Regions from separate parts of the Homo sapiens genome. Here region 2 is linked to region 1. The links come from fine-mapping of genetic effects on gene expression. Tissue or cell type: whole blood. Region 1 holds a variant in brackets; the other region holds the start of a gene. Each region is shown on its reference strand, or each on the opposite one.

Evidence for each region. PIP is the estimated chance that this variant, and not a neighbour inherited with it, causes the effect.
Region 2: H4C4 starts here. The variant in region 1 is fine-mapped to the expression of H4C4 in whole blood (TOPMed, PIP above 0.99).

What each region holds. Positions count from the first base shown.
Region 1 is chr11:108,166,882-108,172,132 of GRCh38, forward strand. It overlaps NPAT (nuclear protein, coactivator of histone transcription), which reads right to left. Exons shown (of 18, transcript NM_002519.3): 14 at 3,047-3,162; 15 at 2,863-2,971. Among named protein-coding and RNA genes, the nearest start is that of ACAT1, 48 kb to the left of the region's middle. The variant G/T (reference allele first, on the strand shown) is at 2,876.
Region 2 is chr6:26,186,907-26,192,157 of GRCh38, forward strand. It overlaps H4C4 (H4 clustered histone 4), which reads right to left and starts at 2,206. Exons shown (of 1, transcript NM_003539.4): 1 at 1,804-2,206. The coding sequence starts at 2,170. The coding sequence ends at 1,859. RefSeq lists enhancers at 807-1,432, 2,215-2,394.

The DNA of each region.
Region 1 (5,251 bases):
TTAAATTTTCAAATCTATGAACATGGTTCTCTTCTATTTATACATCCTTTATGAAAGATTTCAAATATTCTCCATTTCTAACATTTTTGGTTAGGTTACTTCCTTTATACTTTATCATTTTTGTGGTCATTATAAACAGTATCTTATTTTGTATAACACTTAATAGGTGTTTATTGTTGGCACCTAAAACACAATTTTAATTAACCATACCTGGCAACTTTACTGAATTATTAGTTCTATTAATTTTTCTATTAACTCCCTGTGGCTTTATTGTGTAAAAATCACATCATTTTCCATAACAGTTTAATTCCCTCTCTTCAAATCTTTACACCTATCTCTTTTCTTTTCTGAGACAGGGTCTCACTGTTGCCCAGACTGGAATGCAGTGGCATGATCATGGCTTACTTACAGCCTCAACCTCCTGGACTTAAGCAATCCTTCTGCCTCACCCTCCCGAATAGTTGGGACTACTATCTGCCACCACAGCTGGCTACTTTTAAAAAATTTATTTTCTAGAGATGTGGTCTCACTATATTGCCCAGGCTGGTCTCAAACTCCTAGACTCAAACAATCCTCCTGCCTCAGCCTCCCAAGGTGCTGGGATTATGGGGATGAGCCACCATGCCCAGCTCCATTTTCTTACTGTATTGTCTGGAACCACATATGTATGGATGTATGGGACCTTGTTTATGGTGGAAGTATAATCAGATGTCAGTGGGGCAAAAAACTGATTACTTAATAATTAATTTACTGGTGTTGGAAACACTGGCTTATTACATACAGGGTGGGAATGAGTATCTTTGTGTTATTCACAGCTTTAAAGGGAACCCATGATGTTTACTATAGATAGCCTTTAAGAGCTTTTATCATAAATGGATGCTTAACCTCACCAATGTTTTTTTCTGGTATCAACTTTGTAAGGGATAAAAACAAGTGTCAGACTGTGAAGACATCTGTGATATGTTACTAATAAAAGTATAACACCTCAACAGACAGGAAATTTAATAGAGAAGTAGGAAAAGGATATGAATAAGCAATTCACAGAAGGGAAAATATTATTTATAGTTATAAGAGAAGATTCCAAACTTTATTAGTAATCAGAATAAAGTAAAAGAATGATATGAGATACTACCACTTTAAATCCATCATAGTGGCAAAAGTTAAAATATCACATGGTATCAAATATTGGTAGTGTTGTGAGGGAAGCAGGGAAAATAATGGTAGAAGTATAAATTTTCTTCTCTATGACTCAGAAATTCTGGGTCATAGAGAAGATATACTTCTTCTCTATTATACCCAGTATACCCAAAGATTTCTGGGAATAAGCCCCCAAAGAAACTCTCATATGGGTTCACACAGAGGCATTTACAAAGATGTTCCTCATATCATTGCATGTCACATCGAAAACATCTGAAAAGTCCACTGATAGGACATATATAAAATACATTTATGCAAGTGATAGATATCAAATGGCCATTAAAAGGAATGAACTAGTTATAAGAAAGAACATAAAAATAATATAGAGTAGCTATAACAGGACATAAGTCTAAGAGGGTGCCTCAATAAGTCAAAATGCAACTTAAGCCTACATCAATAGATGTATACTGTTTAGTTTAAGGAAAGGCTGATTTGATAGCAGTTAGTTGAGTTCTCTGTATAATGAGTGCATTTAAGATACTCAGACTACTGAGAAGAAATACAATGTAATGTGTTAAGTGCTGTAGCATAGGTATCACTAAGAATTAAAGAAAAAAATAAAACCGGAATATCCACCTCAGCCACCGCTGGTTAAAAATGCTTCCTAGGAACATTTAAGTTAATTTCGAAGGATAAATAAGAACCAGATTGAGGGTAAGAGTTGGGTAAGAAGGGGGAATTCTAGGTAGAAGAGATAGCATTGGTAAAAGGTACAGGGACAAGAAAGATCACCAAGTATAAGGTGAGCAGCAACTATAGTTTGTACAAAGGGTCCATGCTGGGAAGTGGTAAGAGATGAGATGGAGAGGTCGAGAGTGACTAGATGACAAATGTATGCACATATGTCACCCTGAGAAATTTCAATTTTATCCTTTGGGCAAAGGGGAGTTGCTGAAAGTTTTTAGGCAGGAAAGCAACATATTCAGATTTGTATTTTAGGGAAAAAAAGTCACTCAGCCAGCAGATATGAGGTGAACTGAAACAACAGAGACTAAAAGAAGGGAGACTACATGACACTATTGATACAACTTAGATGAAAAATGACAAATACTTGAACTAAGAAGGAGAGGAAAATGTGTTTTAAGAGTGACTACCAGGTTTTTCACAAGTAAACAGATGGTTGGGACAATGGCTAAAACAGGGAACACAGGAAGGTAATTTGCAAACTTTAAAGCCTTGCTTCAAGTGTGGTCCAGTACCAGCAGCACTGGCATTGCTTAGAAGCTGTTAGAAATGAGGAATTTCAGGTGCTGTACCAGACCTATCAATTCAGTACCTGCATTTAACAAAATCCCCAAATAGTTCATATACACACTAAACTACAAGAAGAACTGCTCTAAAGTCTCATACAATTATACGAGGCATTCATTAAACACTTGAAAGCTGTTGGGAAAAATAGGGACTATACTTAATTTAGGGAAGCTGCAAAGAACAAACCAAGGACTACTGGGCAAAAGCTAACAGATTCAACAAAGGAGACAATTTTCTCAGAACCAAAGCTGTTCAGTAACAGTTGGCTGCATTATGACATCTGTTACTAGCAAATGTAGGGTGATCACTTGTTTTAAAATGGTTTAGGTATTCAGAAAGAAAACATTTAGGTGTTGCTGCAAACAAATGAACATACAAACATAAAGTTAACATTAATGAAATTAAAAATGGTACCTATACAAGGCTT[G/T]TTTCTTAGTCCCTGAGCCTTCTGAGATTTTGGAGGGACGGGGAATTGAGGGATACTTCTATTGCATACAGGTGCTGTCAAAGGCATATGAAGAACCTGGAAGAGAAAAAGCCATTAATTACACTAAGCTTGAAAAGCATCACCACACCATTTTCAGTTCATAAATCTTACCTGCCGAGGAGGAGTAGAAAAGTTATTTCCATTCTGTCCAACCACAGATACTGGGATCATCCCTACCATTCCTTGGAGTACAGGCTGGACTGGAGAGGCAATTATTATGGCAGATCCTAAAAAAACAATTCTTGTTAAAAAAAGATTTTCTCTGAAATGTTTTGGCACAAAACAAACAAATGTTTGGCACAAATTAATTACTGCTTTGAAATAAATTCTATGAACAATCCCTCTTCCTTACGATCCACTCTCCAAAAACAAAACAAAACAAAACAAAAAAAACGAAACTGAAACAGTTTTAGGAAAAACAGCAAGGCTAACAAATTAAGAAAAAGTCAATCCAAATATTAAGGTGGTCTTAATGTTATTCAGTCAGTGAACCATGCTGATCAAGCATAAGACTCTACAGCCAAGACATCATATTACAATCATATCTGGATTCCTCTAGAAATAATGAAACTAGTTAGAAAATGAGTGGTGAATGTTTCAAGTCTGAACCTTACACCAGAAAATTACAACCCCAACTGAATATTTATACCCAGGACTACACTTGTAACCCCAACCTATTACATATCTCAATGGTATTGATCAAAAGGGGGTAAGGTAAGCACGTAACTGGTCAAAACTATGGAGGGAAAATTACAATGTCTACATGGTCCTCAGAAGTCAACAACATAGTTTGTGGCTACTGTAATTTAGTCCTGTCCATAAACAAACTTTTGCCTAATACACTACTGTCAGGTTGATCCCCTCATTTTCATGCAACCTACTACGGTCTCTCTGTCTATGCTGGTGCTGCTTCTCTTTATAACTTACAGATTTTATAAGTTATAAAAACTTCCTTGCTTTAACTCCAAATCCTACCTTCATTCTTTAAGCTTTAGCTCAAGCCCCACATTCTCTATTAATTCTGACCTCTCCTTTATGTAATTTGTAACAGCACGTAAAACAGACCCATTAGGTTTAATACTAATTGTTGATATTTAATGAAATTTTATTGTATGTCTATAATGTAACAAAAAGGGAAAAGAGGGAAGCTTGGGAACCAACACATAAGGAAATGTAAATAAATGTGCCATGAGCACTATCTCTGAGGAACATACAATAAAAAATTATCAATATGATAGGCATATCAATCACTAACTACATATAACACAGCACGCAATAAATGCCACAAGAGCCCCTATGAAAAAAGGATTTTTTTTTTTTTTTTTTTTTTTGGAGACAGAGTCTTACTCTGTCACCCAGGCTGAAGTGCAGTGGTGCGATCTTGGCTCACTGCAACCTCTGCCTCCCAGCTTTAGATTCTTCTGTCTCAGCCTCCCAAGCAGCTGGGATTACAGGTGCCCACCACCATGCCAATTTTTGTATTTTTAGTAGATACGGGGTTTCACCATGTTGGCCAGGCTGGTCTTGAACTCCTGACCTCGGGTGATCTGCCCGCCTCGGCCTCCCAAAGTGCTGGGATTACAGTCATGAGCCACTGAGCCCAGCCATAAACAAAGGATTTTAAAGACAGAGATCAATTAGAAAGGATTTTATAAAGGAAGAAATTCAAGTTTTTTTTTTTTTTTGAGACAGAGTCTCGCTCTTGTTGCCCAGGCTGAAGTGCAATGGCATGATCTTGGCTCACTGAAACCTCTGTCTCCTGGGTTCACGAGATTCTCCTGCCTCAGCCTCCCAAGTAGCTGTAATTACAGGCACCTGCCACCATGCCTGGCTCATTTTTTTGTATTTTTAGTAGAAATGAGGTTTCACCATGTTCTCGAGGCTGGTCTCAAACTCCTGACCTCAGGTGATCGATCGGCCCACCTCGGCCTCCCAAAGTGCTGGGATTACAGGCGTGAGCCACCATAACCGGCTGAAATTCAAGTTTTTCTTGAAAATTTCTCCAAAAAGATGATGAATTCCCTGAAGACCATGACTATAAGAGCTATTTTTAAAAACTCCCCCACAACATTGGGTTTTATACAACTATGTGATGAATTAGTCTGTCTTTTCTGTTTATTGTAACTTACTAGCACATAGATTGAGAAGTATTTGTGAAAAGAAAAAAGAAAAACCACTAAAGCCCATAGCTTACTAGCAGATTAAGAAAAATAAAAAAGGTTTGAATTAGCTAGCATAAAGAAGCAGCGTAATCACAAATTTCAGAATCTTTTCTCATACCATCTACTCATTAGTTATTACTTCGCAGTCAATAAC
Region 2 (5,251 bases), not on the chromosome of region 1:
CTGTTCTGTCTATAATGGAACCCAACAGAGGTGATACCAAGTCGACAGGCTCATTTGGCATCAGCTTTTCTGTAAAGAGCTTTCAGGTCAATGGAAGGACATTCCACAATACTAAATAAGTTTAGTAACAAAACTGAATTTTGTGTGATAAAGTTATGCTGCTTACAAAGAGACTCAACAATAAATAAGCTTAAAGACAGATATTTTTGTTTCATGGAACAAATCCATTGTGATTAGTCCAGCTTTGTGAAGCAGCTCTGCTCCTTGTGATCAATCAGGAAATTTCGTTCCTTCCAAGTCAATGTTCTGTCATCTCCTAGGGCCTGATGTTCTCTAATTGCTCAAAATGAAATCAATACCATTATACTTGGGGAAGAAGGTAACATGGAAGTTTCAAAGCCCAGACCTGGTAGTAACTTTTCTATGTGTCTCACCTGTGTTGGAAATAATGTAGCCACATGCTTACATCTGCTCCCAGAAAGACCAGGAAATGTTGTCTCTTGCTAGATAGCCACCTGTCCAGCTTTCTTTTTATTATGATAAAGTGAAAAAACTTTATTGGAAAAATAAGGGTTTACTCAATATTCTCCACAAATTAAAATCCATTTTGAGGACAGCGAATAATACAGTGGCATACTGATAGTCCTGCGATTGTAAGGACTGGAGTAACCCACTAGGGAATGGCTTACTTATTTTTGTCTCATTTCCTGAGGTGTAAAGGGAAAGAAGGTGGGAATTTAATCATGACAACCTCGGTTTTAAACACCCATTCATGCAACCACAGTAACCTGATCTATGATTTAAGGTAAAATGACTTCTGTTAATAATAAAGTCTAAGACTATTTAAGATAAAAGGACAACAAAAAAAGAACTCGTTCAACATACCTTTAAATTGGCCACGGGTACATAAATAAAAAGTCCTTTTAAATTCAACAATAGAAAATCAGTAGATCTGGATGGAAGGCAGCTCAGAGGAACAGAACCAAACAAGTTGGCCTCTCCCCATTCCACTAAAAAATGTTGAATCTTATGTACTTTCATGGTTGTTTCTCCCACGGTAATTACTACTTTCTTCTTTAAAGAATGTATTTGCCAGTCAAGTGCCTCCAACACACCTCCCATCCCCCCACACCAATAACCATCTGAATGCCATTTTGTCTTCCTTTCATATAACAATGCCTTGGTAGGAACTAGTAACTACCTCCATTTTTTTCACTATTCTTCACGGCAGCATCAGCCTTTACCACTTGCCTTCTGAGATACAGGTTTTGCTACCTTGTTTCTCCAGCAGCTACAGTCTTTGCTACCTTGTTTCTCTGATAGCCATGAAGAATGTTAGCAGCAGTTTGCCATGTTTCCTTACAGAAATACAGAAAACACAGGCCAAGCGTGGTGGCTCACGCCTGTAATCCCAGCACTTTCGGAGGCGGAGGAGGGAAATCTCTTTTGAGCTTGAGTTCAAGACCAGCCTGGGAAACATGGCGAAAACCCATCGCTGCAAAAAATACAAAGATTAGCCGGGTGTTGGTGGCGCAAGCCGGTTGCCCCAGCTACGCAAGAGGCTGAGGCACAAGAATCGTTTGAACCCGGGAGGCGGAGACTGCAGATTGCCGAGATCGCGCCATTGATTACTCCAGCATGGGCGACACAGCAAGAGTGAAAATAAACTTTAATACACTATCCTCACCGGCCAGTAAGATATGAAGCCAAGGCGTAATAAGACCATTTAACTTGAAAACCGGAGCTACTAAACACGTGAAACTACACTTTTAGCAGTGACTACTACTCTTTCTCCTGAGTGGATAGGTGGCCCTGAAAAGGGCCGTTGGTTTTGCGGTAGTGTACTGTAGAGGTAAGCTCAGCCGCCGAAGCCATAAAGAGTGCGTCCCTGGCGCTTGAGCGCGTACACCACGTCCATGGCTGTGACTGTCTTGCGTTTGGCGTGTTCCGTGTAGGTGACAGCATCGCGGATTACATTTTCCAGGAAAACTTTCAGCACTCCGCGAGTTTCCTCATAAATGAGGCCAGAAATACGCTTGACGCCGCCGCGGCGAGCCAGGCGGCGGATAGCGGGCTTGGTGATTCCTTGGATATTGTCACGCAATACCTTACGGTGACGCTTGGCGCCACCCTTACCTAGACCCTTTCCGCCCTTACCGCGGCCAGACATCTTGAAACCACAGCTGTTAAATCTGTAACGCAATACGTCTGGCAGAGCCACGCAGCACTTTTATAATAGCATGACGGACCTGTTTGAAAACCTCATGAGAAGGGGCGGGAACCACAGTCAGTTCCCGCCCTTCTGTGCAATTCTCCCTTGCTCAGACTGGAGGAGACCAAGAGGGGCCTGAGGCAACAAAAGAGCCTCAGCTGGGATTTAATAAATACTGCTAGGTATATATATATATATACACACACACTATACTTGCAGCCATTAACTGAGCCATCAGTTCATAAACTTTCGACAAAGAAGCCTGACAATTGTCCCCCACTTTTCCCAGAATATCAAATAATTAGTACTGTTTCCCTCACAGGGTGCTTTTTTTTTTTTTTTTTTTTTTTTTTTTTGAGACGGGTTCTTGCTCTGTTGCCCAGGCTGGAATGCAGTGGCACGATCTAGGCTCACTGCATCCTCTGCCTCCCGGATTCAAGCAATTCTCCTGCCTCAGCCTCCCGAGTAGCTGGGGTTACAGGCGCCCGCCACCATGCCCAGCTAATTTTGGTATTTTTTTAGTAGAGACGGGGTTTCACCATAGGCCAGGATGGTCTCGAACTCCTGACCTTGTGATCCACCTGCCTCGGCCTCCCAAAGTGCTAGGATTACAGGCGTGAGCCACCGCGCCGGGCCATAAGGTGCTTTCAAAGTATTTTAAGTAACTCATATCTTTATTGTCTCTGAGATTATTTTTATTGATTTATGCATTCCTAGTTAACCAAGCAGGGCTCTTTGGCATGCAGGCTAGATAGTGCTACTGAGGGAACTAAAAGTATATGAAAGTTACACATTTAGAGGTCAAATTAGGATAAGATCACCGAGGGCCGATTGAAAACATGACTATGTACACCCGTAAAAGAAAACCTTGTTGGGCTGAAATTTATGAAAATTTATGCTTTGATTGTGCCTTTAATCATGGACAGATTGTAGCTAGCACTGCATCATTCACCATATTCTATTACTCCAGCAAATTGGCATCATAGTATCCCTCCAAACTATCATAGAGACAGCCTGCTTGACATACATGCTGTGGGGGTGACCCTGGGCAAGCTATACTAAGTTTCCTTGTTGTAAATGTATTTTTAAAAATCTAACTTGTAAGTATTTGTTAAGTTGAAACAGATAATCCTATCAAAATGCTTAGAATAGTGTCTAGATTCCAAATAAGCAATGACTAAACATTAATTATGGTATAGTACAATATTGTGGGTGTTTTCAATTCCTATCCTTAAGGTTCACCCTTCTAAAGGGATGAGAGACAGTATTCTAATTTGCTAAAATCTGATTTCGAGAACTCCTCAAAATAATAAATAATTAAAAACTTAACTCATCATTAATCCCCATAAAAAGTTCCAGGTCCTTTGGGTGGAATATTTGGCTTTTCCTTCATGACTTGTGAGAAGAACCAAGTTTATCACAGCTGTTTGCTGTTTATTGAGTTTATGGTACATGGAAAAGATTGCAGAGTAAGGTTCTTAGCCTGGGATACATAGAAAGTCTTCAGGGGATCTGGGAATGAGTATAGAAAAAAAAAAAGTCAAATCTTTTTTTTTTCTTTTTACTATTCTCCAACAGAAACAGCATTTTTTCTGTGTATGAACTCAGGCAACAAACAGTGTAATTGGCAGGACAAGTGCTTCTATTTATATCACATTCTCATTGCCAATATCTCGAAATTTCATTTAAAAATCTCAATCCTAAAGCCGGGTGCAGTGGCTCACGCCTGTAATCCCAGCACTTTGGGAGGCAAAGGCGGGAGGATCACGAGGTCAGGAGATGGAGACAATCCTGGCTAACACAGTGAAACCCCATCTCTACTAAAAATACAAAAAAATTAGCCGGACATGGTGGCGGGCACCTGTAGTCCCAGCTACTCAGGAGGTTGAGACAGGAGAATGGCGTGAACCTGGGAGGTGGAACTTGCAGTGAGCAGAGATCGTGCCACTGCACTCCAGCCTGGGCAAAACAGCAAGACTCCATCTCAAAAAAAAAACAAAAAAACAAAAAAAAACCTCAATCCTTCAAAACTATAATAAGTCTTAGTCATATGGGTAGATTATTATTTAATGTATTAATTTAAAAAGGACATATGCCAGGCCATGGCTTATGCCTGTAACTCCCAGCTCTTTGAAAGGCCCAGATGGGAGGATCACTTGAGGCCAGGAGTTCCAGACCAGTCTAGCCAACATGGCAAAACCATGTCTCTACTAAAAATGCAAAAATTTATCAGGCATGGTGGCGCACAGCTACTTGGGTAGCTAATCGCTTGAACCTGAGAAGCAGAGGATGCACTGAGCCAAGATCGTACCATTGCACTCCAGCCTGGGCAACAGTGAGACTCTGTCTCAAAATCAGTAAGTAAATAAAATAAAAAATTTAAAAGCACATATGTTAATATTTCACCAATTTAGATTTTTTATAATTTGATAATGGCATACTAATATAATTGTTTCACTTTGCATTCCTATATATTATCTAATGCATTTAAAACCACTATTCTGCGCGGGGCATGGTGGCTCATGCCTGTCATCCCAGCACTTTGGGAGGCCGAGGTGGGTGGATCACCTGAGGTCAAGAGGTCGAGACCAGCCTGGCAACGTGGTGAAACCGCGTCTCTACTAAAAATACAAAAATTAGCTGGGAATGGTGGTGCATACCTGTAATCCCAGCTACTTGGGAGACTGAGGCAAGAGAATTGCTTGAACCTGGGAGGCAGAAGTTATAGTGAGACAAGATTAAGTCACTGTAATCCAGCCTGGGTGACGAGTGAAATTCCATCTCAAAAATAAATAAATAAATAAATATTATTCTGGCCGGGTGCGGTGGCTCACGCCTGTAATCCTAGCACTTTGGGAAGCCAAGGCTGGTGGATCACTTGAGCCCAGTTCAAGAGCAGCCTGGGTAACATGGAGAAACCCTGACACTACTAAAAATACAAACATTAGCTGGGCATGGTGGCATGCTCTTGTAATCCCAGCTACATGGGAGGCTGAGGCACAAGAATCACTTGAACCCGGAAGGCAGAGGTTGCAGTGA